Regions from separate parts of the Homo sapiens genome. Here region 1 is linked to region 2. The links come from fine-mapping of genetic effects on gene expression. A gene starts in region 2. The other region holds a variant in brackets. All regions are shown on one strand. Distances are from middle to middle. Region 1 holds the start of MPDU1 (mannose-P-dolichol utilization defect 1). Region 2 holds the start of TNFSF13 (TNF superfamily member 13).

The links.
Region 1: its variant is fine-mapped to the expression of TNFSF13 in whole blood (INTERVAL, PIP 0.94).

The regions. Positions count from the first base shown.
Region 1 is chr17:7,579,245-7,591,402 of GRCh38, reverse strand. It overlaps MPDU1 (mannose-P-dolichol utilization defect 1), which reads right to left and starts at 7,551. Exons shown (of 7, transcript NM_004870.4): 1 at 7,438-7,551; 2 at 5,606-5,671; 3 at 5,325-5,457; 4 at 4,626-4,711; 5 at 4,386-4,504; 6 at 4,132-4,242; 7 at 3,191-3,977. The coding sequence starts at 7,540. The coding sequence ends at 3,852. SOX15 (SRY-box transcription factor 15) reads left to right here and starts at 1,309. Exons shown (of 2, transcript NM_006942.2): 1 at 1,309-2,259; 2 at 2,857-3,225. The coding sequence starts at 1,727. The coding sequence ends at 3,025. It overlaps MPDU1-AS1 (MPDU1 antisense RNA 1), which reads left to right and starts at 7,311. Exons shown (of 2, transcript NR_136402.2): 1 at 7,311-7,485; 2 at 9,240-9,429. It overlaps CD68 (CD68 molecule), which reads right to left and starts at 11,765. Exons shown (of 6, transcript NM_001251.3): 1 at 11,677-11,765; 2 at 11,076-11,593; 3 at 10,818-10,937; 4 at 10,620-10,692; 5 at 10,337-10,507; 6 at 9,292-10,025. The coding sequence starts at 11,725. The coding sequence ends at 9,892. It also overlaps FXR2. RefSeq lists enhancers at 1,591-2,165, 6,106-6,978, 7,213-7,742, 6,979-7,853, 7,853-7,902 and 3 more. The variant TTA/A (reference allele first, on the strand shown) is at 4,962.
Region 2 is chr17:7,550,184-7,563,020 of GRCh38, reverse strand. TNFSF13 (TNF superfamily member 13) reads right to left here and starts at 4,271. Exons shown (of 6, transcript NM_003808.4): 1 at 3,724-4,271; 2 at 3,319-3,397; 3 at 3,128-3,175; 4 at 2,854-2,972; 5 at 2,533-2,671; 6 at 1,420-2,297. The coding sequence starts at 3,981. The coding sequence ends at 2,188. It overlaps TNFSF12-TNFSF13 (TNFSF12-TNFSF13 readthrough), which reads right to left. Exons shown (of 11, transcript NM_172089.4): 3 at 12,826-12,837; 4 at 12,169-12,222; 5 at 12,043-12,078; 6 at 6,119-6,243; 7 at 3,319-3,397; 8 at 3,128-3,175; 9 at 2,854-2,972; 10 at 2,533-2,671; 11 at 1,420-2,297. The coding sequence ends at 2,188. It overlaps TNFSF12 (TNF superfamily member 12), which reads right to left. Exons shown (of 7, transcript NM_003809.3): 3 at 12,826-12,837; 4 at 12,169-12,222; 5 at 12,043-12,078; 6 at 6,119-6,243; 7 at 5,140-5,922. The coding sequence ends at 5,671. SENP3 (SUMO specific peptidase 3) reads right to left here and starts at 1,102. Exons shown (of 11, transcript NM_015670.6): 1 at 758-1,102. It also overlaps SENP3-EIF4A1. RefSeq lists enhancers at 1-332, 1,599-1,848, 4,223-4,272, 5,083-5,142, 4,728-5,521 and 1 more and a silencer at 959-1,038.

The DNA of each region.
Region 1 (12,158 bases), 29 kb before region 2:
GAGATAAGTGGGTGGGAGGCACGGGGAAGGTTTTGGAGTAGAACCAGGGGTGTGTATGAAGGGGGGTGACAAGGTCCCCCTGGGGAGGGGACCAACCTTGTCTGGTGGATGAGAAGGCGTATTTATTTTTCACTGTACAGTATTTAAAAAGAGAATAAAAAAATCCAAATGGCTGTCTGGCTCCTGTGCCTTCTTTGTCCCCAGTTTGGTCCATTTGTTTCTCTAGGACTGACCTGCCCTGGCCCCTGGCTCTTGTTTTCTGTTCCTCCACATCTGACTTCTCTTCATTGTCTCTTGTCCCAAAGATGGTCTTACTTCTGGGAATTCCTGACATTCCTAAACTCCCCAGGCCCAGGTTCTCCCTCCTGGTTCAGAGGAGGGGGGCTTGTGCCTTGTTGCTTCTCCCCTCCCCCAAGTTTGCTGGTAGAGGGAGTTGGGCCACTCCTATACCCTGAGTCACAGCACAGGCTAGGCAGGGCTGCTCAGAGCTGGAGCTGTTCCTGTAGAAGCTGAGAGCCAAGGCAGGCTGCTTAATCCGATTACCTGAGGCCTGGGGCTTGGGCTGGGCCGTTGGGCAGAGTGGGGAGCAGGGTTCCCTCACAGCAGCCTCTGGAGCCCGGGGTCCGGCCTTCTTGGTGGTGTTCTGTTCTGGCTCCAGGCTTTTTCTCCGGCATGCGCATCACAGACCTCTTAACTTGGGGAGTTGTCCTGGGTTTCCTGGCTCCCCCCTCATGACTTGGACGACTGAAGCTAAAACTTGCCATAATTCAATAGCAGTGGAGAAATATAGGTTTAGGGACTGGAGTTGGGAGGGCTTAAGTTTTCTCACTTGGGAAAGGGGTTGAATCACGGCCCAAGCACCTGCTGGAATGACTCAGGAAACAAAAATGGTCTCCCTCCTCGGCCTTTCTTGCCCCAGGGGCAGTTCTGGGATTTGAGGAGCAACAGGCACCAGGAAAGGGGTTGGGGTGGTGGTCCGGGATGCTCCCAAGCTCCTCTCAGCACAACTCGGGCCCTGAGGGCACTTCATCCCCCTGTGTTTGATCCCATTGTGGAAAGAATTGGCTTTAAATTGCCTGTGCTTCAGGGAGGGGAGGCAATCAGCAACGGGCTGGAAGGCCTGACATCAGGTCTTGGGTGGGGGGGGCGGGGGGCGTGGCACCCTGAGGGTGTTGGGGGCTGGGACAAACAGGACACCTGGGTTTACCTACGGGCTGAGGATGTTGGCGCCCTTAAGGAGGTGCAGTCTTATGGGAGGGACAGGGGCGGAGTCAGTCTTTAAAAGCTGTTCCCAGGTCTGGCCCGCCTGCCACAAACGCTGAGCCCAGGTGGGAGAGGTCTGGCCTATCCGCGCCTGGCAGCTGTCGGAACTCCGGAGACCACAAAGGGGTTTATGGTTTACCCCCTCCACGGAAGGTCGGTCTGATCGCAGCTGCGGGTCGGGGAGAGGGACCGGGGGTCCCCCAGTCAGTAGGCCTCAGAACACCTCTTCAGTGCCGGGGCACCAGACAGCGGATTTTGCATTCGACTCTCCCCAAAGTGTGCCGAACAGGTTGGAAGCAAAGGCTCCGGTTTAAGCTCTGGGCTTGGGGATAAAATACACTTTTTAAGGACCCAAGTTCCTCGGCAACGACTCCAGACTGGGAAGACCTTTCCATTTTCAGGATCGACGCTTCACGTTGAGGGGAGGGCATTCAGGACGCCCTCTTAAGGCTTCTCCCAACCCATGGCGCTACCAGGCTCCTCACAGGACCAGGCCTGGAGCCTGGAGCCTCCGGCTGCCACGGCTGCTGCCTCCTCATCTTCGGGACCCCAGGAGCGGGAGGGCGCTGGGAGCCCCGCGGCCCCCGGGACGCTGCCCCTGGAGAAGGTGAAGCGGCCGATGAACGCGTTCATGGTGTGGAGCTCCGCTCAGCGCCGCCAGATGGCGCAGCAGAACCCCAAGATGCACAACTCCGAGATCTCCAAGCGCCTGGGCGCGCAGTGGAAGCTGCTGGACGAGGACGAGAAGCGGCCCTTCGTGGAGGAGGCCAAGCGGCTCCGCGCCCGACACCTGCGCGACTACCCCGACTACAAGTACCGGCCTCGGCGCAAGGCCAAGAGCTCGGGCGCCGGACCTTCCCGCTGCGGACAGGGAAGAGGCAACCTGGCCAGCGGCGGCCCGCTCTGGGGGCCGGGGTACGCGACCACCCAACCGAGCAGAGGCTTTGGGTACAGACCCCCCAGCTACTCGACAGCCTACCTGCCTGGCAGCTATGGGTGAGTGCCTGGGAAGCGGGCCGAAGACGGAGGCCCATGCGCCCCTCTTCTGGAGCCTTGGTGGGGGCGGATGCCGGAGGACGGGAGCCCACCCAAGCAGAGGCCACTCGCGGCCAAGGTGTGGCGGGCGCAGGCCCAGTACCTCCGGGGCCTGTGTAGGGTGGGGCGGATCAGGGTTCTCCCAGAGGGCGTTTCCATCTCAGTCTGAAGGTGGTGGGCCCTGTAGGGTCAGGTGACTGACCCCTGGATGCGACTGTGTCCTAGTTAGATGCCCCGTTTCCCCCCTGCTTCTGGCCTGTGTGTGACCCAGCTTCCTCTCCCAGCCCCCAGGGCAAGGAGAGGCCGAGCTCATTCTGCCCTTTCCTGGCCTGACTCCCCAAGAGGAAAACAGCCGTGCAGCACGCAAGCCCGCTCCCGAGCGTGCCCCAACAGGGCCGCGGGCTCTCCATCCCGGGGTCGGCTTCCATGCCTGCTGCGCCCAGCGGGCTGGGTAGCCAGGGCTGGGTGGGTGGCACGCTCTACCCTGTCTGCCCAGAACTGGCCAGACTCACCTCCAACCCAGGGAAGTGCCCTCTAACCTCTTGTTTCTCTCTGCAGCTCTTCCCACTGCAAACTGGAAGCCCCCTCACCGTGCTCCCTCCCTCAGAGTGACCCTAGGCTCCAGGGGGAACTGCTGCCCACCTATACCCACTACCTGCCCCCTGGCTCTCCCACTCCATACAACCCTCCCCTTGCTGGTGCCCCCATGCCCCTAACCCACCTCTAACCCTCATGGACGCAGACCTCACGGGACGGGCCTCATCCTCCTTTTTTAATCCAGCAGCATCCCCTACCCCAGGCTGTCAACCCTTTCTCCTGTTGGACTACAGTTCAGAGGCAGCCTGCAGTCCTCCCATGATAGCCAGGGAGAGCCGCACAACATACAATTATATTTTTGGTAGTATTAAACAGTTTTGTATTATTCAACTGAGTCTCCAGTCTTTATTGTCCCATCTGTTCCCCTCACTGCAGCAGGAACCAGCCCCATCTCCACTCCCTTCCGCCTAGACCTGCCAGAGCAGGAACCTCCTCACCCCACCCTGGGGCCCTGCCTGAGTCATTCTCCGTCCCCCTTCCCCCACCCCAGCACTGGGGTCCGGGAGACAGTCCCAGCCGGGCTGAGGGAGGGAGGCAGCCACAGCCTCCCAGTCCCTCCACTCTGCCGTCCAGACTCAGTCTTCCAGGGCCAGAAGGGAAGCAGGGAGGCTGGAGGACAGGGTAAAACATTTGCCCAGGATAGTGTTACACAGCTGGAAATTGCTGCTAGAGGAGGAGGCTTGGCTGAATGACTGAATTAATAGTACATGTACAGGGCTTACGAAAGCACTCAAATGTCAAAATTTTGGCTTGGGAGACTCTACCCCCATCCTCTCCTTTTCTAAGGATCTGGATCCATCAACCATTTGTTTCCACTAAAAGAAAACCCTGGCTCAGAAAGTCTGCAAGTGCAGAGGAATGGAGGATGAGTAAGTCACACCAGCAGGCTGGCTCAGATGGGGAGAACCCTGAGGTTGGGTGAATGAGTGGAAACGGAATGACTCCAGTAGCTGGCTCTACTGCGCCTTTTTCTGCTTGTGGGGAGGCTTTGCATTCCAGTAGAAGAGCAGCTGGGCGGCGATGAGGCCGTTGCAGAGAGAGGAGACCACAAAGGTCCCAGCCATCAGGGGATCTCCGGTTTCCTGGTTGCAAGAGACAGAGCCAGGGTTACCCTTCAGCATAGCTCAAGAAAGGTTCCCTTATGGACAAAGGTTCCTCACGGGGCAGCTTTGGCCCTTAGCTGGGAGAAGTAAGACGAGGTTTTAGTGCCTTCTAGAAGGAAGATGTTGCACTCACCTGAATGGAAGTGAAGATTCGGGCCAGGGAGCCCCCAAACAGCAGGAAGACTGTGATGGCTGAGAGCTGGCCTGTGTGCCCGTTGTGGTAGTTGGTGGCTGCCTGGAGAAGCTAGGGGAGGAGTTGAGACCTTTGGCTCTGTCACCTGAGCTCTTCCCATGCTCCCCCAAGTACAACACCCCCACACTTTGATCTTCTACTCTTCCCCCCCACCCTGCCCCCACAACATCTTGTCCCTTGCTCCTGGTACCCACCCTCCCCACCACCACAGCAGGCACATTGGAGGCCTGGAGCAGGGTGACTACAGTCAAGGGCGTCAGAGGTGAGAGAAGCACCAGCAGGACCAGGCCGTAGCAAGCGAGGAAAGCGACACCTAGGGGTGGGGAGACAGGAGTCCTTGTCAATCTCTCCACATCATTTGGCTTTCCCAGACCTGAGTTCCCAGCAGGGTTCCCAGGAACCACACAGCCTGCTCTTGGGTAAGTCCCCAGCACCTTTCACAGTCTGTCCTCTGTAGTGCATGACCAGGAAGCAGATGGTGATCGTCTGGAGCATCAGGAATAAGGCTTCACCCCAAGAGCTGCAGAGTCAAGAGTTGGGAGGAAGAAAGGCGGGCCTAGAAAGAGGCAGGGAAAGCCTCCATAGCCCATCCATCCAGGGACACTATGCTCTGATCACGCTTCTCTACAGCCCCCACACGGGACTGGCTCATTCTGAATCGTGGCCATTCTCGGGATGCTCACCCCTTCTCAAGATCACCTCCACTGGTGATGATTAGGTTTCTAAAAGGGCTTAAAACTTTCCTAGCCCCTTGTCCCTTTTTTTTTTTT[TTA/A]AGACTGAGTTTCGCTCTTGTTGCCCAGGCTGGAGTGCAGTGGCGCAATCTTGGCTCACTGCAACCTCTGCCTCCCAGGTTCAAGTGATTCTCCTGCCTCAGCCTCCCAAGTAGCTGGGATTACAGGTGCCCATCACCACACCCAGCTAATTTTGTATTTTTAGTAGAGACGGGGTTTCACCATGTTGGCCAGTTCGAACTCCTGACCTCAGGTGATCCACCCGCCTCGGCCTCCCAAAGTGCTGGGGTTACAGGTGCAAGCCACTGGGCCCGGCCACTTTGCTGCCTTGTAACCTCCTTCACCTTAATCCCCATTAGAGTTGTGGGTATTACCCTTGGGGTGGAAGGGTGGGCCCCTCACCTGAATGGGAAGTTGTTAGTGATGCTGTAGACCATGGTCCCAGTCAATGCCACTAGCTCCAGCATTACAGACTGGAGACTCAACCCTTCAGCACTCTTGGCTCCCAGGATTTTAAACACCTGGGGCAGCTTTACTAGGGGAAAGATGAGAAAAGTAGGACTGAGGACTCTCCATTCTTTGGGATGCAACACAACAGCTATAGAACGAACACCCACACAGTTGATGGCCTCTCAGCACCTCCACCCCAACCCAACAGCTGGAAAGAAAGATAAGAGACATACCTAGAAGTGAGCCAGCCACAATGCCCAGCCCCAGGCCTTTGCTGAGGAGAATCTTGAGGCAGGGGACTGAGGAGAGAAAAAAGGGTAAGCAGACAGGAGATGTCTGAAACCCAGGCCAGGGCTTGAAGCTCCTGTGGGCTCTCCCCGAGCCCCCTTACCCACACCAGGGTCTTGCATTGTCTTGGGGGGAGGAGAGGCGGAGGGCAGTGAGAAAGTCCTGGTCCTTCCTGCTCCAAACCACCACACTTTTTTTTTTTTTTGGAGACAGAGTCTTGCTCTGTCACCCAGGCTGGAGTGCAGTGGCCCAATCTCAGCCCACTGCAGCCTCTGCCTCTTGGGTTCAAGCAATTCTCTTGTCTCAGCCTCCCAAGTAGCTAGAATTACAGGCACACACCACCATGCCCGGTTAATTTTTGTGTTTTTAGTAGAGACAGGGTTTCACCATGTTGGCCAGGCTGGTCTCGAACTCCTGACCTCAGATGATCCACCTGCCTCAGCCTCCTTAAAGTGCTGGGATTATAAGCTCGAGCTACCGCACCGGGCCCCAGACTGTTACTTTCCAAAACAGCTTTTCTCCGATGCCTACCACCCCCCACATCCAATCTTCCATTCCCTATAAATTAACACCCAAACTTGGCTTGACCTCCACGGCTCTCCATTGCTTCCCCATATAAAGCTGAGAAATGCCCAAGAGCTCTCTGATCCTTTATTTCCCTTCTCTGGGCCAATGGGTGCCCCATTTCACATGTCTTCTCTCTCCAAAGACAAGTCTTCATACCATTTTTTTTTTCTTATTTTAATTTTGAGACGGAGTTTCACTCTTGTTGCCCAGGCTGGAGTGCAATGGCACGATCTTGGCTCACTGTAACCTCTGTCTCCCGGGTTTAAGCGATTCTCCTGCCTCAGCCTCCCGAGTAGCTGGGATTACAGGCGCCTGCCACAACGCCCGGCTAATTTTTTGTATTTTTAGTAGAGGCGGGGTTTCGCCCTATTGGCCAGGCTGGTCTCGAACGCCTGACCTCAGGTGATCCACCCGCTTCGGCCTCCCAAAGTGCTGGGATTACAGGCGTGAGCCACCGTGCCCGCCCCATACCACTCTTTCTTGAACACTCTGACTGTCCCTGGCCCCTACTCAGGGACTAAACCTTACCCTTTCAAGGCTTGCTTTTATGCCCTGGCCATCCACAACTTCTCTAGCCTTGAAGCCTTCCCCTCAAGGAACTTGGTCTAGTGGGAGTCTGACTCTCACGGGTCATGAATGCGGCTAAAACAAAGTGCCCCACGAGCTCAAGAGAGGTACCATGAACTGACAGGGGCAGACTGACGCTCCCCAAACGGTCTGACGGTGACCCTTGTGGAGCTGTCTCGCAATCAGAAAAAGGAAGGGAGGCAAATTATTCCGAAATCAGACTATGAGCAAACCTGGAGGCTGGAAAGAAAGCAATCAGGGTGGCGGAGCCTTTGGGGGTGCAATGAAGGCCCGATTCATCAGGGGCTTTGAATTAAGTTTAACCCTGCTAGCGATCTAATAAAGGTTGGCATGATTTGACTTAATTTTTATTTTGTTTTATAAAAGTTGACTCTTCGTTTTTCATTGTCGCTACAGCACAAACTCCACAAAGAAGTAATTCCACCCGGTGACTTCCCCACTGGCACTAATATGGTGTCCTCCCTCTAAGGAGCCCGAGACACTTCCGCCCTTCTCAGAAGTGACTTCCGTCCAGCTCGGCATGGCGGCAGTCACTGCCGTCACTTAGTCGCCGATCAAGGCTTGGACTAAGGGCCCACGGTCACTCGAGTAGGACTTGGATCGGATGCTGAATAAAACTCACCGTGAAGCAAGTCCCACTGAACGAAAAGTTGGTCGTAGCATTTCTCAGGTAAAAGAATCGGCACGAGCAGCCGTTTAAGCGGTCCGTCCGCCTCGGCCGCCATATTGCAAAGCTAGCTTCCGCCAGTCTCTCCAGACCGCCATTGACTTTCGTTGCGCGTGCGCGCTGCGGACACTCCGCCTCCCGTTCTTTTCCCGCGGCGAAGCTGGCCCGCCCCGTGCCCCGCTCTTTCTGACGCTACCCACCCTCACTCTAGTGGCGTAAAATAAGTCTCAGTCAGGGACCACGTTTTGGACGCGCTGTTGGAATTGTAAAGCTTGCCGAAGCTGCACGCCTGCGCGGTTAGACCTCCCACGCCTTTGTTGACGCTTCCAGTTTGGAAGCCAGATTTACACCCCTGCCTTTCTCCGCTCCTCCTGCTGGGCGCCATCTTGTCTTCTCCTAGCACACTTTGTATTGTTCGAAGTTGAGAGAGAAGGAGCCGGAGTCTCCGAGGTGGCGTTGGGTGGGGGCGCTACTAGCTCCCGTTCTCTCAGCGTCTCTAGAGGGAAGGGCGCCGGTGGGAGCAGGAGAGTCTGCACCGGGCAGGCCTCCTTAGGTGCCGGGTTGCGCGCAGGGCCCTGTGCTTGTCTCGCCTCCGGTTGGCTCAGGCCTCGGAGCATGAGTGCGCCGGCAACTGCTGGGCCCGGGACAGTGAAGCAGAGGAGGAGGTGGGGGAGGCGAGCCCAGGTCGGGGAAGGGCAGCACCTGAATCACCCTTGGGGCCCAGACCCCCAAGAGTCTCCGGGGAGCCGAGGCCTGGCGAGGCAGTCCCGGGATTCGCCCCCTCCCCGCTGGCCCGAGGGCGCACCACGTGCTGGGCAGAGACTTCGGCGAGGCCGAGTGGACCCTGCAGCGCTGCTTGGGAAAGGGCACCTTGGACTACCTGGTGGGGGCGTTGTGCTTCGTTACCGACCGCCGGGACGCCAACCCACGGTGCCCACCCGTGCGTCATTCCGCTGTGGATCAGCCCTTTGGCGGCCCCCCTCCAAAGTCTACAAGGTCACACGGATGTCTGCAGGCAGAGGTGGGGCTGCTGGGGCCCTGCCAGGTGAGGGCTGCCCTTGTGGGGCAGTCTCTGGGCCTTGGAGGCCGGAAGCCTCCTGGGGCTCCTACGGCTGGGGGGTGCTGCTCATCCTGGCTCCCAGGGATTGCGCCGTAGCCAGCTGTAATGGGTGGGACTGGCGCTCACTGCTGGTGCAGGCTGTGGCCATCTGGGAGGTCCTTTCTGGAATCTGGACCTTGGCTGTCCTGAGAGTGACACTCCTCATCTCAAGTACTGGGGGCATGAAGTTAGGCTTGGCAGGTGGCCCCGTGTGGGGGGCATGCTGTTCCCAGGAGCCCCCAGTGGAGGTCAGAGTACCCACTGCTCCTTCTTGATTCAACCCCTTGTAGGTGGGATAGGAGCATGCCAGGTGCTGCGAGGGTTTAATCGGGCTCTTCTGCTGGCCTTGAATATGGTGGACAGGACAGGACATTCTCATTGCTCAGGAGCCACTGGCGCTGCCTTTGGGAATGAAGTTCCACAGCCCCCCACTCATTGCTTTGGCTGTCTGCTGCATTTGAAACTGTACGAGGGTCAGGAAGAAGGCTGCGGGGATGAATGGCTCTACCGGCTTGCCACGGATGGGGAACTGGAGCAGCCAGTGGCCCCAAGAGGAGGAAGGAAGGGAGGCACGGCAGACCCAACACCAGCTGTGCCAGGCTTTGGGGGGTGAACCCATGAGGCATCGTCACACACTGACATTTTCATCCCTCCTCAGCAGCTGCTTCCGGCTCCCTGAGACCCAGCCATGGAAGGCATAGAAAGGCATGTGACAAGAAACTCATGGCTTTTAATCCTGGCAGGACAAGGAAAACCCCGTCAAAGATTTGCATAAATTTTGCTGCTCTCCTGCTGGGGGGGGGGGGGGGGCAGTTCGTCACATTTAATAAAATTCTCTCCCTCCCTTCTCCCGACTGCATTATCTCATATTTATTTATTTGAGACAGTCTGGCTCTGTCGCCCAGGCTGGAGTGCAGTGGCGCGATCTTGGCTTAGTGGCGCGATGACGGCTCACTGCAACCTCCACCTCCTGGGTTCAAGCAGTTCTGCCTCAGCCTCCCAAGTAGCTGGGATTACAGGCCAGCTGGGATTACGCCGCCACACCTGGCTAATTGTATTTTTAGTAGAGACAGGGTTTCACCATGTTGGCCAGGCTGGTCTCAAACTCCTGACCTCCAGTGATCCACCTGCCTCAGCCTCCCAAAGTGCTGGGATTACAGGCATGAGCCGTCATGCCCGGCTTTCTTTTTGTTCTTCAAGAAAGGGAAGGAAAATAACATTGTCTTTGAGCCAGTTGCGTGTCGAGGAAATAAGGGTACCCCCCCACCACACCCCAACCCCCTCAGTGCCCTGGGGTTTGAAGCAAATGCTCAGAGGGCCTGGTAGGCGGATGGGCGTCTCCGGATGATGCAGAAAGCAATAAGCACCAGGGCGAGGAGGCCAAGAAGGATCAGGCCGATGATGAGAGGCAGCAAGATGGACCGGTCACTGGGGCAGGAGAAACCTGGCGGAAGGATAGGGCAGGTAGGTATTTGCAGTGACGTGCTGGTTGGGATAAAGGTGGGAGGAGGGAATGGGGGGATGCTGGGGAGTAGGAGATTGGTGAGGAGCTCACCGCAGTGACTCAGCAGTGATAAAAGGGGGAAACTGGCAGAGTCTTGTAGAGGATGGAAAGAAAGCTGCCCTGTAGCCATGACAAGCTGGGAGAGCGAGATTTGGGGGGTTAAGAAGAGAGATGAGTGGCTTATGGGCCTGGGGAAGGGGTTTTCAGTGCAGTGGGAGGATTCTAGGAGGGAAGGAGTAGGTAGGTCTTACTTTGCCCAAAGACCCCTGTGTGGGGCAGCTGAGCAGCCTGGAGCCTCAGGGAGAGCAGGTCGAGGTGGACAGCTGGTGAAAGAATGATGCTCGAGTTGCTGCAACTGAAGCTCTGCCCCAGGGGTGCTTGGAGATCTCGAAGGGATGCATTCTGAGCCGAGAATGTCCACTCTGGAGGAGTGAGGAAGGGTCAGATCCTATCCACCTCCCTGGCCCCAGCTTAGTCCTTTCAGGAACCCTGGCGTCTAGTGGTAGCAATGAGAAAGGGAAGGAGGTTACTTACGTGCTGCGTGGGGGAAGGACACATTGTACTCCACCGCCATGTAGCTCAGGTAGACAACCTTCTGCTGGAGGTCCTGTGGGGCGAAGAGGAAGGCGCAGGTGGTATCCCTCTCCACAGAGGAAGGAGTAGCGTGTGGGATTGGGAGGGGAGGGGCGCCGGGAGGCTGAGTGAGGGGTGAGACTGAGGTCATGGCTATACCTGCATGAATCCAAAGCTGAGGTGTCCATAGGGGAATGAGAGAAGCAGGTGGGGATGGGCACCCTCACAGCTTCCCTGGACCTTGGTTTTGTTGGGGTTCAGTACAGAGATGCCCCAGGCCTGCGGAAGTTAAAGACTGGAAGGTCACAAGACTGCATGCGATGCCGGCCAAGGTTCCCTGTCCCCTCTTCCTTCTTCCCTCTGAGCCTATATCCAGTCCTGCCTCCCTCCCCTCTCATCCCCCAGTTTTAGCTTTACCTCTCCTCCACCCTGGGTTGTGTACATGACTCGAATCTGAATCTGGGCTTGGAGGTGGACACAGGGCTGGGAACCATTGGTCCACGTGTAGTCTCCAATGGTCTCCTTGGAGGTTGGGCTAGGACTCGGAGAGGGTGGAGGTGGTTCTGGGTGGGCAGAACTGGTGAATCCTGGGCTGGTGGCAGTGCTGTTGCTTGTTGGATGAACCGTGGCATTTCCATGACTAGTGGTGGCAGGACTGTGAGTGGCAGTTGAGGGTCCCTGGCTGGTGGCAGTGCTATTGCTTGTTGGATGAACTGTGACGTTTCCATGGCTGGTGGTGGTGGGGTTGTGAGTGGCAGTCGTGGGTCCGTGGCTGGTGGTGCCTGTGGTGGTTGTCCTGTGAGTGGTGGTTTTGTGGCTCTTGGTAGTCCTGTGGCTGGTTGTTCCAGTGCTCTCTGTAACCGTGGGTGTCACCGTGAAGGATGGCAGCAAAGTAGCTGATTTTTTGTGAGGACAGTCATTCCCTGTCCCCTGGGCTTTTGGCAGAGAGGAGATGGTTAGCAACCCAGGGCAGGCTCCCTCCCAGGGGCCCCCTCCCCTCAGCCTCCTTCCTCCTTACCTGCCAGTAGCCCCAGCAGGGCCCCCGAGAAAAGCACAGCCAGCCTCATGGCTGAACCGCCTCACCCAAAGTCCAGCTAGGCTGTCTGCACCAGTTGCTCAACCCTGCTCCCTCAGCCCTCTCTTGGAAAGGAGGAAATGAAAGTCTCACTTCCTGTACTGGAGATGATCCCACCCACAGCCTGACTCAGGGGCCTCAGCTCTAGCCACCTCTCTCTTAGTCATTAGTTTTTGTAATTAAGTTAGGGGACTGTTGGCCCTGCTTCATCAGGGCAAAGTCAACAGTGTCACATGGGTGCAAACGGAGTCCTAGGGCAGTTGATCCACAGGGATCCATGTGTCAAACTCAGCGAAACTTGCTTGGCAGTTGTGGCAAGTAGCTATGGGAACAGCTGAGGTACAGGCCCCTCCCTTGGTGGGGAAATCGGTTTCCACTCCTTTCCCCTGGACCTCTGGGCTGACCCCTGTACTACTTCCTCTTGG
Region 2 (12,837 bases):
CCGCAGATCCTGCCTCTCTTCCTGGCCATGCCTCCTCTGGATTCAGATGCAAATAAAGAAAAGAGGAAAAAACGCAAAACTCCTAACTTAAGATCTTCCCGGTTAACGCGGTCCACAAGGGGCCCTTCAGGGTCTGTGCCATCATCTCTCCCCAGTCCAGAGACAAGGGAAAATGGCTAAGCAGCAGGCCTCAGAGATCTTATTTCTAAGATCACCAGGCCAAACCCAATAGCACTGCCAGGTTCTACGTCTTTATTTTAATACCACCAGGGCTGTCCTTTGAGGGCCCAACAAGGGCAGTTTCTTTCCTCAGGGACATGATAACCGTGGTACTTGAGGAGAATGCAACTTGCACGTGGAAACTGGACTGGAATGGGAGACAGTTCTCTAACACCCTGGATGAACGGGGGGCATGGGAAGGCTGCGGTCATCTCAAGTGCAGATGCCAGGGATATGGTTCAGGGGGCAGAGGCTGATAAACGGGGAAGAACTTTGAAGGAAACTTAAAGAGAACCGAATCAAGACGCTGGGACAGAACGGAGCGCACAAGCCAGGCCGGCCCAGCCCCCTCCTACTTCATCCTCGGGGACCAGAATGCAACCCGGCACCAGTCCGGTCCCACGAGCTTGGATGGCTCGGCGCACACGGGCCTTAAGAAGCCCCTATGCGGGCCTCTGGGCCCCGGTTCGGTGGGAGCGAGGCCCAGGAATGGGAGAGGCCAAGGCAGGGCTGGGGGGAGGGGAGGGGGCGTCCTCACCGGGAGCGGGGAAGCCGGGCGGACGGGCCCGAAGGCGGGCGTCTCCGGCCTCAAGCTTCCCGGCTCATCTCTCCGGCGACGGCGGCGGCCCCGCCACTCCTGCTGTCTTTAGGCGCAGCCGTCTCAATTCAGGATTCCAACGCTTCTGGGCCGCGTGCCGCGCCGCCGAGCACCCCGCCGCGCCGCCTCTGGCTCTGCTTCAGCTTCAGCTTCCACCTCCACCTCCACCTCCGCCACCGCCGCCACCAGCGCCACCGCCGCCGCCGCCACTCCTCCCCCCCTCCTCCTTCCCCTCCCGCGAGCCCCGGGCCCACCGGCAGCGGTGGCGCACGATTAGTACGTCACACCCGGCGAAGAGCGCCGGCGCGGCCACCAAGCGCGCGGTCCCGTCTACCCGAGGACGCCGGCGCCACGGGACTGGCCAGCCCAGAGCGCTACGCGAGGCTGCGCCTGCGCACATCCGCCGCCCGGCCGCGCGTGGCGGCCCCGCCACTTTCCCTTTTGCGCCGCGCTCTGTCTTCTCCGCGCTCGCGGGCCTGACCCTAGCGGCATCCCCAGTACCTTGATCCGGCGGGGGGCGCGCCACAGGAGAGCCAGGAGGGCGGGAGATCCCCGTACGAGGACCGGGCTGAGGCGAGGCAGTGGGGGAAATGGAGCCGGGGTATCATTCATTCTATTTTATTTAACTTTAAGCAGGGCTTGATCAGAAAGAAGAGCTCAGAGGAGTGAGGCAACACCAACACCAGGGCGTACGATACACCCGAGGCTCCTCCGACACCAGTTCCAGCCCGGAAGGGCTTGGAATGGCCTGCCACGCCGGGGCAATGGAGCGCGTGAAAGCCAAACCTTGGGACCCGAAGAGTAATTTGACTGCGAAGGCACCGTCATCGTCGGGCACCCCCTGTAGACGGGCGCATAATAGCTACATCTCTGGAGATAGTGATGGAAACTGGGGTCCGATAGATGGAGAGAAGGACGTAGGATAAGGCTTCTTGTGGGGTGAAGAGGCAGAGGGCACCTGGAGAGAGGTGTGGCATGGAGAACCAGGGGTTTTCCCTAGCAGAGGGCGGCTTCGTGGACTTCGGCCAACCGGCGGGTGCTTCCCTCGAGCGGCCGCTAGATGGTGGTGCTGTTCTGGATGCTTCCAGTGGGCCCCGACCAGGTCTGGACAATGCCTGGCGCCCGTCCCCCGCCCCTCATCTACACACACGCAAGAATTCGGAGCTCCATGGGGAACAGAAGCAAGATATCCGTAAAATCAAAGTCTAGGGGGTGGGAATGAAAAGGGAAAAGTGAGGAACGGGGAGCCAAACCCAGGAAGACGCCTCTGTTCCTGCACATTCCCTCTCCTTTATATACTCAGCTCTTGGCTGTCTCCAGTATGTACCCACCCTGGTCTTCCAAGCTGGGAGCCACTTTTTATAACACAATCACAGTTTCACAAACCCCAGGAAGGTTCCATGTGGAGAGAGGTTAAGTTTCGCCCTTGCCCGGGGAATTATGACACTCAGAATATCCCCTTGGTGTAAATGGAAGACACCTGAGAAAAGAGAGAAAGTAGATTCGCAGTGAAGCACAGCCATCCAGATGCCCTGTTTCCCCCTGCCTTCTCCAGCTCCACCGTTCCTCTGCCTCCTGTAAGGACCCGGCATTCTGCACTTCACTCCTCAGACCCGCCTCTGTTTAGGTTTCCAACCTCCCTCCTAGCGGTAGCTCCCTGCACTGCTACCCCCGGTCAGAGACGTCCTGCTTTCGGCTGCCCACACGGCTCTCACCTGCGCTATAGCAGCTGTTGTAGGCCCGGTCCGGGTGGGAGGGCATACTTCTTATACATCGGAATAGAGTCTCCTGCCTTCCTTGGCCTTCTCGAGACACCACCTGACCCATGGTGAAAGTCACGTCTTGAAACAGGACCTGGCAGGGAAGGGAGATGTTGAAGAAAACAGGATGGCCTGGCTCAGTTCTGGGAGGCCTCAGGAGCGCTAACGAGGGAAGAAAGAAGGGTCTGCTGGGTTTGGTATGAATAGAGGGGTCAGGAACCCTCAGTAGGGGGCCAAAGAGGCCCTCTGTGAAGCTCAGAGTGTGGCTGGGGTTACCTGGCTATACAGCAGATAAACTCCAGCATCCTGGATTCGGACACCATATCCTTGGGCCTGTAGGCCTCTCCCACGCCTAAGAGCTGGTTGCCACATCACCTCTGTCACATCGGAGTCATCTGGAGGTGAGAGTGTGTCGGTCAGGACTTCTTGGCACTCTCAGGTGCTTTTTGGTTCTTTCCCTTTCACCTATAAGGACCCCTTGAGCCCAAGTGCCAGCCCGAGTTCCTGGTTATTGCCCCTCCCCAAAGCCATTATTTAAAATAGTGCTCACCCTTGGAGGTGGCGTTAATGGGAACCAGGTGCAGGACAGAGTGCTGCTCTGAGGAGAGAAGGAGGGAATCTCAGCCGCATCCACTTTCCCCCGTTGTGCTGTTGGCAGCCTCCACCCTCACCCTGACTCGGGCTTACAATCCCCACGCTGCTTGATCACCTCCCACCCCTGCTGCACCCTGGAAGCCTCACTCTTCTGTTTTTGGGTGAGCACTGCTCTCCTTTTCCGGGATCTCTCCCCATTCTCCCAGGCTTCCAGGGCATCGGAACTCTGCTCATGGAAAGAGGGTCAAGGTTAGGTTAAGATGCGAGGGTCCCAGCCAGCCTGCCTTCCCAGCCCTCCCCTGCCCCCGAGATGCCTCAGATCTCTCACGCACCTTTTCCCAGCACCCTGAGTGTTGGTGCTGGCTGCCCTCCAGGATTTGTTAGGTATGAGAAGCATTAACCTTTAACAGTTTCCTTTCCTGGAATGGCCGCGCCCCTGACTTCCAAACCGGAGACCCTCTCTTGCACCCCCTTGAAACTTTGCAGACCAGGAGGCCCAGAGACCCCCCATGCTAACCATCCTCTCCCAGACACCCTCCTCCCCTCACTCACCTGCTCCGGGAGACTCTGCCAGGGATACCCTTCCCCATTCTGGGAGGGGCCTCCTGTCCCCTGCAGCCGGCTCACCTCTCTCCTGAGGCTCTGCAGCTCTGTTTGTTGGGTCAGCAGAGCCATGGCACAAGCCACGGCCCCCAGAGCTGCCCCCCAACTCAACCAGAGGGCAACTGAGAGTGCCGGCTCTCTGACTGGGCCCCCCATGTTGCCTGGAGGCCCTTTGGGGGCTAGCAAGAAAGGAGATGAGGCTGGCATGAGCTGGGGACCCTGCCAACAGCTGTGGTTTCAAGAGTGGGGTAGCAAGGAGGTGGCGGGGCGGGTAAGGGTACGGGCAGTGGTGCAGAAGGGAAGAAGGTTGTTACGCAAGGAGAAATAAAAAGGAACTTGAAAATAAAAAGGAGGGAGGAGGAAAGCAAGCTAAGGGTACTGTTAGTGCTCCTGGCACTCCGTCGTGGGGCCAGCGTTGCCTTGAGACCCTCCACCCTCCCTCAGCCTCAGGAGAATTAGGTTCCAGTCCCTCTAGGAAGGACAGGGCTGCCAGTGACACCCAGGAGGAACAGGCAGTGCGCAGGAACCCTGGGGCGGCCCCAGGGTTGGGGGAGGGAAGGTTGGCTGGCTAGAGGGCATTGTGCCAGGAGCAGGATGGGGGGCCAAGCTGGGCAGTGTCCAGGGTCAGGGCGAGGGTGGAAGACCCTCGGGGTCAAGCACAGCAGAGATCGCTGGGGCAGTTCACTAGGGGTGACTGAAGGTGGGAAAGGAGGGGTGGGCTCGATGGGGAGGAGAACCAGGGGCACGGAAGCAAGAAACTGGCTGAGTTCTGGGGTTAAGGCTGGGCCGGGTGTGTTGGAATAAGGCCTGCACTACTCCCTGTGCTGAAATTGGCAAGCAGGACTTCCTGTTTCCCGAGAAAAGCTCTTACATAAGGCTCTGGACGAAGAGACAAAGCAGCGGCCTCAAGCCCCCCGGCCACTGCGGGATTCCTCCCCAGCACACAGGGTTCCGGGTTCCCGTGTGCCTGCTGACTCTCAGCCCCTCCTCCAGGCTGGCTCCTGCCCGCCCCACCTCCCAGCCAGGGCCTGTGCCAGCACCTGCTGAATGTCCGAGGCCACCAAGAGGAAGGGCCCCTGCTCCTCCCAGCCAGGAAGGGATTTCCCCGCAGGAGGAAGTCTGCCTCCTAGGCCAAGGAGGCCGCTTCTGCTGTACCTTGGGCGGAGGATTGATTTTTTTCCTGGGCAGTGTGCCTTCCTACCTCTGCTCCCACCTGGGGGCTGGAGGCATGGAGGTCCCCGCCCCCAAGCCTGAACATCATCCCGGAGTTCCAGCTGTGCCGCTCCGCAACGCCCCCCTTCACGTGGCCCCCAGCTACCCTGAGAGTGTCCCCTGAGCCCCAATAAAGAGAGAGACTATGACTTATTCTATTTAATATCCATTTATCAACATTTTGTCACAATAATAATAAAAATAATATCTGTTTTAAAAATCCACAGGGAATTCTCAAGGGAGGAGCTTGTCTTGTTTCTCGCCCCTCACATTTGGGAACTCCTGGCCTAGGCCCAGTCTCTTTGGCTTCCTGCCGCCAGGTCCAGCCCCTCTTAGTGCCTGAAGTGGGGTCTTCTGGACCCATCCTTGCCCACAGAGTACAGTGAACACAATGCCCTGGGGGTCTGTGGCCAGGGGGGAGTCGAGATCACTGGGGGCCTCAAAGGGTCAGGGATTGGGGAGCTAGTGAGGTGGAGAGTGGGCGGTGGGGGAGTTGTAAGATAAGAGTGGGAATACTGTATTTATGTGGGATGGAAAACACGTGAACAGGCCCAGGCAGCCTCTAGAGGGAGGGGCAGGTCTGGAGCAAAGAGCGGCTGAGGGTGGGGCAGAGGGGACCGGGTGCCCAGAGAGCTGTCGAGGGGAGCCGGCAGCCTGGGACGACTGCGGGGAGACCAGGGCCCCTCAGTGAACCTGGAAGAGTCCGAAGTAGGTGAGGAAGGGGGCAGCCTTGAGATGGGCCCAGGGGAGGGTGCGGATCCGCAGGGAGGACCCTGGCCGCAGGGCCAACAGCCCAGACACCTGGCAGAGGCGGAGCTGGGGCCCGAGGGAACTCGCCGCAGTGGCTGAGAATTCCTCCAGGCAGCGCAGGGCCAGCACACCATCCACCAGCAAGTCCAGCTTCAGGTAGACAGCCTTCCCCTCATCAAAGTGCACCTGGGGTGGGGACAACAGGCCGAGTCCAGGCCTCTGCCTGCCCTCGCCTCAATTTCCAATTTCCTCAGCGACGCAGGCATCCCATCCCACCCAAACCCCAACTCACCCTCCCAGCCCTGTAGCTTGTCCCCCACTCTCCTGGCAAACCCTTCGCCACTCTCTTACTGCGTTACCCATGCAGCCAGATGGGGCTTACCTGACAGTACAGGTAGTAGAGCCCAGCCCGGGTGACTATAAACTCCCCGATCTGGCGGTTGTAGCGCAGAGGGCTGGAGCTGTTGATTCTGGCTTCCTCCCAGCCACTCACTGTCCCGTCCACACCTGAACACGGATGCTCAGAGATAAGGAAACGTCTCTCTACAGGACTCCCCCACACTCCCCAGGGATCCATTGAGCATATGAACATTCGGCGCCCACTTTACCCAGAAGACACATAGATCACCCCGGGCAAGGGAGGACCCATCCCCTATGATGCCCATAGTTGACTAGGAAGTTATGTGAAAAAATCTAATGTATATGGCCAGAGACATTCAGGGCAGATTGTCACCTGCAGTCACTTCTGGGGAGAAGAGTAGAACTGAAGGAGAAGCGTGAGGGGATTTAATGTTTTACTTCATGGATATCTATATTATTTGCTTCTTTTATATGGAGGATGTAAACATACATTATCTGAATTAGTACAACTAAAAATAATAAAATGAAACCCAATTGTCCATCAACAAAATGTCTATCCATATAATGGAATATTATTTGGCCATAAAAAGAGTGAAGTACTGATACACACTATGGCACAGATGTGCCTTGAAAACATCATGCTCAGCCAGGTGCAGTGGCTCACGCCTGTCATCCCGGCATTTTGAGAGGCCAAGGTGGGCGGATCACCTGAGGTCGGGAGTTCGAGACCAGCCTGGCCAACAAGGTGAAACCCCGTCTCTACTAAAAATACAAAAACTAGCAGGGCATGGTGGCAGGCACCTGTAATCCTAGCTACATGGGAGGCTGAGGCAGGAGAATTACTTGAACCTGGGATGGGGAGGTTGCAGTGAACCAAGATCATGCCACTGCACTCCAGCCTGGGCAACAGAGCTAGACTCTGTCTCCAAAAAAAAAAAAAAACAAAAAAAACGCTCACTGGGCATTTTTATTTCCACCAATGGGTTCCCACAACCTGTGCTCTGCAGAGTCTCCAGCCCTGAAGTTTCCTTCCCTTCCTTACCCTGCCAACTGCACCATCTGAACAGCAATAGCCCCTCAAACTCATCTCAACCAACACTGAGCTGACCCCCCTCATCCCACTCTTGCTTTACTGTCTGTTTTCCACATTTGGCTTCTGGTTTTGCCACCAGGGGGATATTCAAGCCTCCCTCTCCTTTACCTACATCATTAATCGATCACCAGTTCCTATCTATCCTGCCTCCTAAATAGCTCTCTCCCCTCTCTCCCCCATCTGGTGCCTCTGTCTGGTTTTCACAGCATTCCCTGTTTCCATTCTGGCTTCCTCCAGTTTATTCCCTACACAAAGCCACAGAATGAGTCTCTAAGATGCAGACGTAAGCCCGCCTCGCCTCGCCTTCCTCCTTCCGATGGCTCACCTCAGAATAGTTCCCACATGCCACCGTGTGGCCTGGCTTCTGTCTCCAGCCTCATCCCCATCTCGCTCCTCTAGCACTTTCTGCTTCTGCCACGCTGAACTTAGAGTCCCCCAGCCTCATCATGCTCTGGGCAAACCCGGGGCTTTTGCCCCAGGGGCTGCTTCTGCTTGCACCCACCATTCTTGACCCCTTGCCTGTCTTGTCTTACGCTCCTGCTTCAAGGCCCAGCGGCACCTTGCGATGCAGGGAGAGAATCCCTGACTCCACAGCCATGTCTGTCTTCCCCTGTGTTGCCAGGTATCTTGGCCACTTTTATTATTGTTCTTGTCATATTCCACTGTAATTACAAATTTTTTTTTGAGATGGAGTCTCACTCTTGTCACCCAGGCTGGAGTGCAGTGGCACAATCTCGGCTCACTGCAGCCTCCGCCTCCCGGGTTCAAGTGATTCTCATGCTTCAGCCTCCTGAGTAGCTGGGATTACAGGCATGTGCCACCAAACCTGGCTAATTTTTTTTGTATGTTCCTGTAATTACAAATTTATATGCTTGTTTCCTCTCCTAGACAGTGACTCCTTAAGAGTTGGTCTGAGGCTGGGCACAGTGGCTCACGCCTGTAATCCCAGCACCTTGGGAGGCCAAGGTGGGTGGATCACGAGGTCAGGAGATCGAGACGCTCCTGGCTAACACGGTGAAACCCCGTCTCTACTAAAACATAAAAAAAAAATTAGCCAGGCGTGGTGGCAGGCGCCTGTAGTCCCAGCTACTCGGGAGACTGAGGCAGGAGAATCACTTGAACCCGAGAAGGCTGCAGTGAGCCGAGATGGCGCCACTGCACTCCAGCTGGGGCAACAAGAGCAAAACTCCATCTCAAAAAAAAAAATGGGTCTGACCGGCTGGGCGCGGTGGCTCACGCCTGTAATCCCAGCACTTTGGGAGGCCGAGTTGGGTGGATCACGAGGTCAGGAGATCGAGACCATCCTGGCTAACACGGTGAAACCCCGTCTCTACTAAAAAATAAAAAAAAATTAGCCAGGCGTGGTGGCGGGCGCCTGTAGTCCCAGCTACTTGGGAGGCTGAGGCAGGAGAATGGCATGAACCCAGGAGGCGGAGCTTGCAGTAAGCCGAGATCGCGCCACTACACTCCAGCCTGGGCGACAGAGTGAGACTCCATCTCAAAAAAAAAAAAAAAAAAAAAAAAGAGTCTGGATATTAGTTGCTGTGGGCACCTAGCCTGGCCCCTAGCAAACAGTAGGTCTTCAATGCCTGTTGAGTCAATGAATGAATGAATGTCTGGATAATTGCCAAAATAAGTGGTCTATACAGAGGGGAGGAAGGCTGATCTGGGCATGAAGAGTAGGGAGGGCAGAGAAGAGAGGGCATTCCTAGCTACGAAGCCAGCCTAAGCAAAGGCTGCTTGTAGCCTAAGGGCATGGTGTGCCCAGGAGCACGGAGGGCTTGCCTGGTATATCACTTGTCTCCAGCCACAAACCTCACCTGGACATTCCGTCCTGCCTGGCAATCTTACATTCCCCCACGAAGCTTGCTTTCATAATCAGCAAGTTGAGATTTTGTACCATTTCTCCTCAAATCTCCTGTCTCCATCTCCCTAGTTGTCCAGAGGACCTAGAAGTCATCGAGCAAAGGTTCCCTCATCTCCCCCCAGCAAATCTACAAACCCACCTGGTCTCTTGTTCTCCTTTGACCCTCTGGTAATGGTGGGAGATGTGTCCTCTCTTCTTTCTGGAAACTTCCCTCTCCCCTTTTTGGATGTGGCCCCTGCATGGACCCCTCACCCCTGCACCAGCCACCTCGCCTTTCATGCAGACCATGTCCAGTACACAGGCACATTCTAGCTGGGTTCAAATCTTGGCTCCACCACTTAGTATCTCATGGCCTCAGACAAGTTGTGTAACCTCCATCTGTAAAATGGAGGTAATTAGAGTATCTTCCTTTTAGGGCTGTTGTGAGGATTAGATAAGACCAAACACAAGTGCCAGACACAGTGCCTATCTCAAGAAAGCCCTCAGTACATGTTAGATCAGATGAAAATAGTATTGTTCACAGAACTAAACTTTTCCTTGGTCCACACACCCCTCCACCTACTGGCCTATTTCTCTGCTCCTTGTTACAGAGAAACTTCTAAAAAGGGTTGTCCTAGGCCGGGTGCAGTGGCTCATGCTTGTAATCCCAGCACTTTGGGAGGCCGAAGCGGGTGGAACACCTGAGGTCGGGAGTTTGAGACCAGCCTGACCAACATGGAGAAACCCTGTCTCTACTAAAAATACAAAATTAGCCAGGCGTGGTGGCGCATGCCTGTAATCTCAGCTACTGGGGAGGCTGAGGCAGGAGAATTGCTTGAACCCGGGAGGTGGAGGTTACGGTCAGCCGAGATCGTGCCATTGCACTGGATCCAGCCTGGGTGACAAGAGTGAAACTCTGTCACAAAAAAAAAAAAAAAAAAAAAAAAAAAAAAAAAAAAAAAGGTTGTCCCTGCCTCCAGTTCCTTATTTCTCATTTTCTTCTCAACCCAATGCACACTGCCTTCCTGTTCTAACTATGCCACTGAAACCACCCTCTTTAAGGTCAGCAGGACTTTCACGTTACCAAACCCAGCCATCATTTCTCTGTTCTCATTTCATGTGATCTCTCAGCTGCATTCAACACAGACAGCCACATCCTCCTTGAAACAGTGGTTTCTCCGAATCCAGGATGCCACCCTCCCTGGGTTTCTTCCTCTCTCTCCAGCTTCTTTTCAGTCTCTGCTGGTTTTCCCCTCAGCTCCACTTCAAGATGCCCAAGAGTCTCAGGGCTTCATTCGTGGGGCCCTTCTTTCTCCTGGCGTCTCACCCAATCCTGTGGCTTTAAATGCCATCGATAGGCCGGGCACAAGGGCTCACACCTGTAATCCCAGCACTTTGGGAGGCTGAGGCTGGCGGATCACCTGAGATCAGGAGTTCAAGACCAGCCTGGCCAACACGGTGAAACCCTGTCTCTACTAAAAAATACAAAAATGAGCTGGGTGTGGTGGCACCCGCCTATAATCTCAGCTACTTGGGAGGCTGAGACAGGAGAATCGCTTGGACCCAGGAGGCAGATGTTGCAGTGAGCCAAGATCGAACCACTGCACTCCAGCCTGGGTGACAGAGCGAGACTCTGTCTCAAAAAAAAAAAAAAAAAAGCCATCCATATGGCCATGACTCCTGGCTTTATCCGTCCTGACCTAGCCTAAGCTAGTCGACAATGTCCAGCCATCCATTTCTGGAATTTACTTTATTGTCATTTATCCGCTTGTTTATTTTAGACTTCTCAACGTTAATAATTATCTTACATACTTCCCAACCTATTTATTCCTTGGTCAATCCCTTCTTAGGAAATGGCATCATTCTTCCCAGAGATACCCAAGTTAAAAATCTAGAAGCTGGCTGGGTGCAGTGGCTCATGCCTGTAATCCCAGCACTTTGGTAGGCCGAGGCGGGCAGATCACTGGAGGTCAAGAGTTTGAGACCAGCCTGGAAAACATGGCAAAACCCCATCTCTACTAAAAATACAAAAATTAGCCAGGCGTGGTGGCACACGCCTGTAATCCCAGCTACTTGGAAGGCTGAGACGGGAATCTCTTGAACCTGGGAGGCAGAGGTTGCAGTAAGCCGAGATTGCACCACTGCACTCCAGCCTGGGTGACAGAGCGAGACTGTCTTAAAAAAAATAAAAAATCTAGAAGTCATCTGTGATTCCTCCCTTTCTTTTATTCTTCACCTCCAACCCATAAGTCAGTAATATCTTCAGGACACAGGCTGAACCCATCCACTTCTCACCATCTCTGCTGTGAACCCCTCGGCTGAGCACTCCTCATGCCTCCCTGCCTCTCACAGTGGAAAGACATTCTGGTGAGGGGGATGGTATGTGCAAAGTCCAGAAGAGGCACACCGGGAGCAGGGGTGTCAGCGCAGCAAACATGAAGACAGCATAAGAGTGCAGGGAAATTAGGTTGAGACCAGACCACGAAGAGACTGGAAGCCATGTAGAGAGCCAATACCACAAGAAAAGTGAAGTTTAGGGGCTCAGCATGGCAGCACAGGTCAGATGGAGTGGAGGGGTAGGGAGGGTGTGGAGTGGGGAAGCAGCAAGAGGCTGGATTTGAGGTTCTGAGGTCACGGTGCTGAGGTAGAGGGTGGGGTAGAAATGGAAAAGATGAGCAGACACTAGCAGCATTTAGAGAAAAAGATCATCAGAACGTGGAATATGGAGGAGACAGAAGAAAAAAGAATGAAAAGTGCTTCTTGGAGAAGAATGAGGGCTGAAGGAGAGAGCTGGGACAGTGATTTGCTGGGGGAACTGGGCAGAGTTCTGGGGAAGAGTAGGGGTCTTTCATGGGGTCCCACGCCTGGGTCACAGAGAGAACCAAGACCTTCATGAACTGGCTTCTGTGGTTCTGAGACTGATGGCCGGGAAGGGAGTGGGAGGTCAAAGGTTTTCAAGGGCCCTTTTCCCAGGAGGCCAGTGCTGTGTCGGGGGATGGGGTCTCACCTGCCTGCGCTCCGTCCTGTCCAGGTCGTGGATGAACTGTAAAGTACAGGAAAAGGCTGGTGAGACCTGCCCTGACCCTCTGCCACCTGCCCCTCTCCTCCTGGGTATGGCTCACCCATCACCCACCTTCATAATGGGCTGCGATCGCTCTTCGAGCCCGTGTTTTCCGGCCTTTAGGTGCTGAGGATCAAGGAAAGACAGATGAGCAAAGCGGGCCCTAGTGGGGGTCCCAGAGCAACTCTCCCAGCCCCATTCCCCTCTCAGGAACCCTGGCATCCTTATTCTTGTCCAGACTCCTGGCCTTAGAATCTCAGGCCTCATCTTCCTCAGTAAGTAGAGTGACTATAATTTGTCATCCACACTGGGATACTGCTGAGAGCAAAACGGGAAGCTGCTATTAATCACACCGAGATAACAGGTGGGGGCCAGGACAACTGCATGCCGACTTGGACACGTGGTCATCCGGCCACCCCATCATCCCATTCCTAAGTCTCTTTGCCTACCGGGGCCCAGGCCTCTGACTGCCAGGCCTAGTCTCCATCAGGATCCCAGTAGTTCTTCTAACTCATGGCCACCCTGCCTTCCTGTTTGGGGTAGGGTCTGAAGGAGCACATCCATATGACAGAAGGAGCTTCAGAGGAGGGCGAGAATCCCTAGGTTTGAGTCTTGGCTGGTTAGCTGCATGACTCTGAACTCCTTTCACCCTCCGTGCCTCAGTTTCTCCCTGTGGATAATGGTTTTTGCTCTGCCCGCTTCCTGAGGTTGGGATAGAGGGATGCTCACCACTTCTGCGAG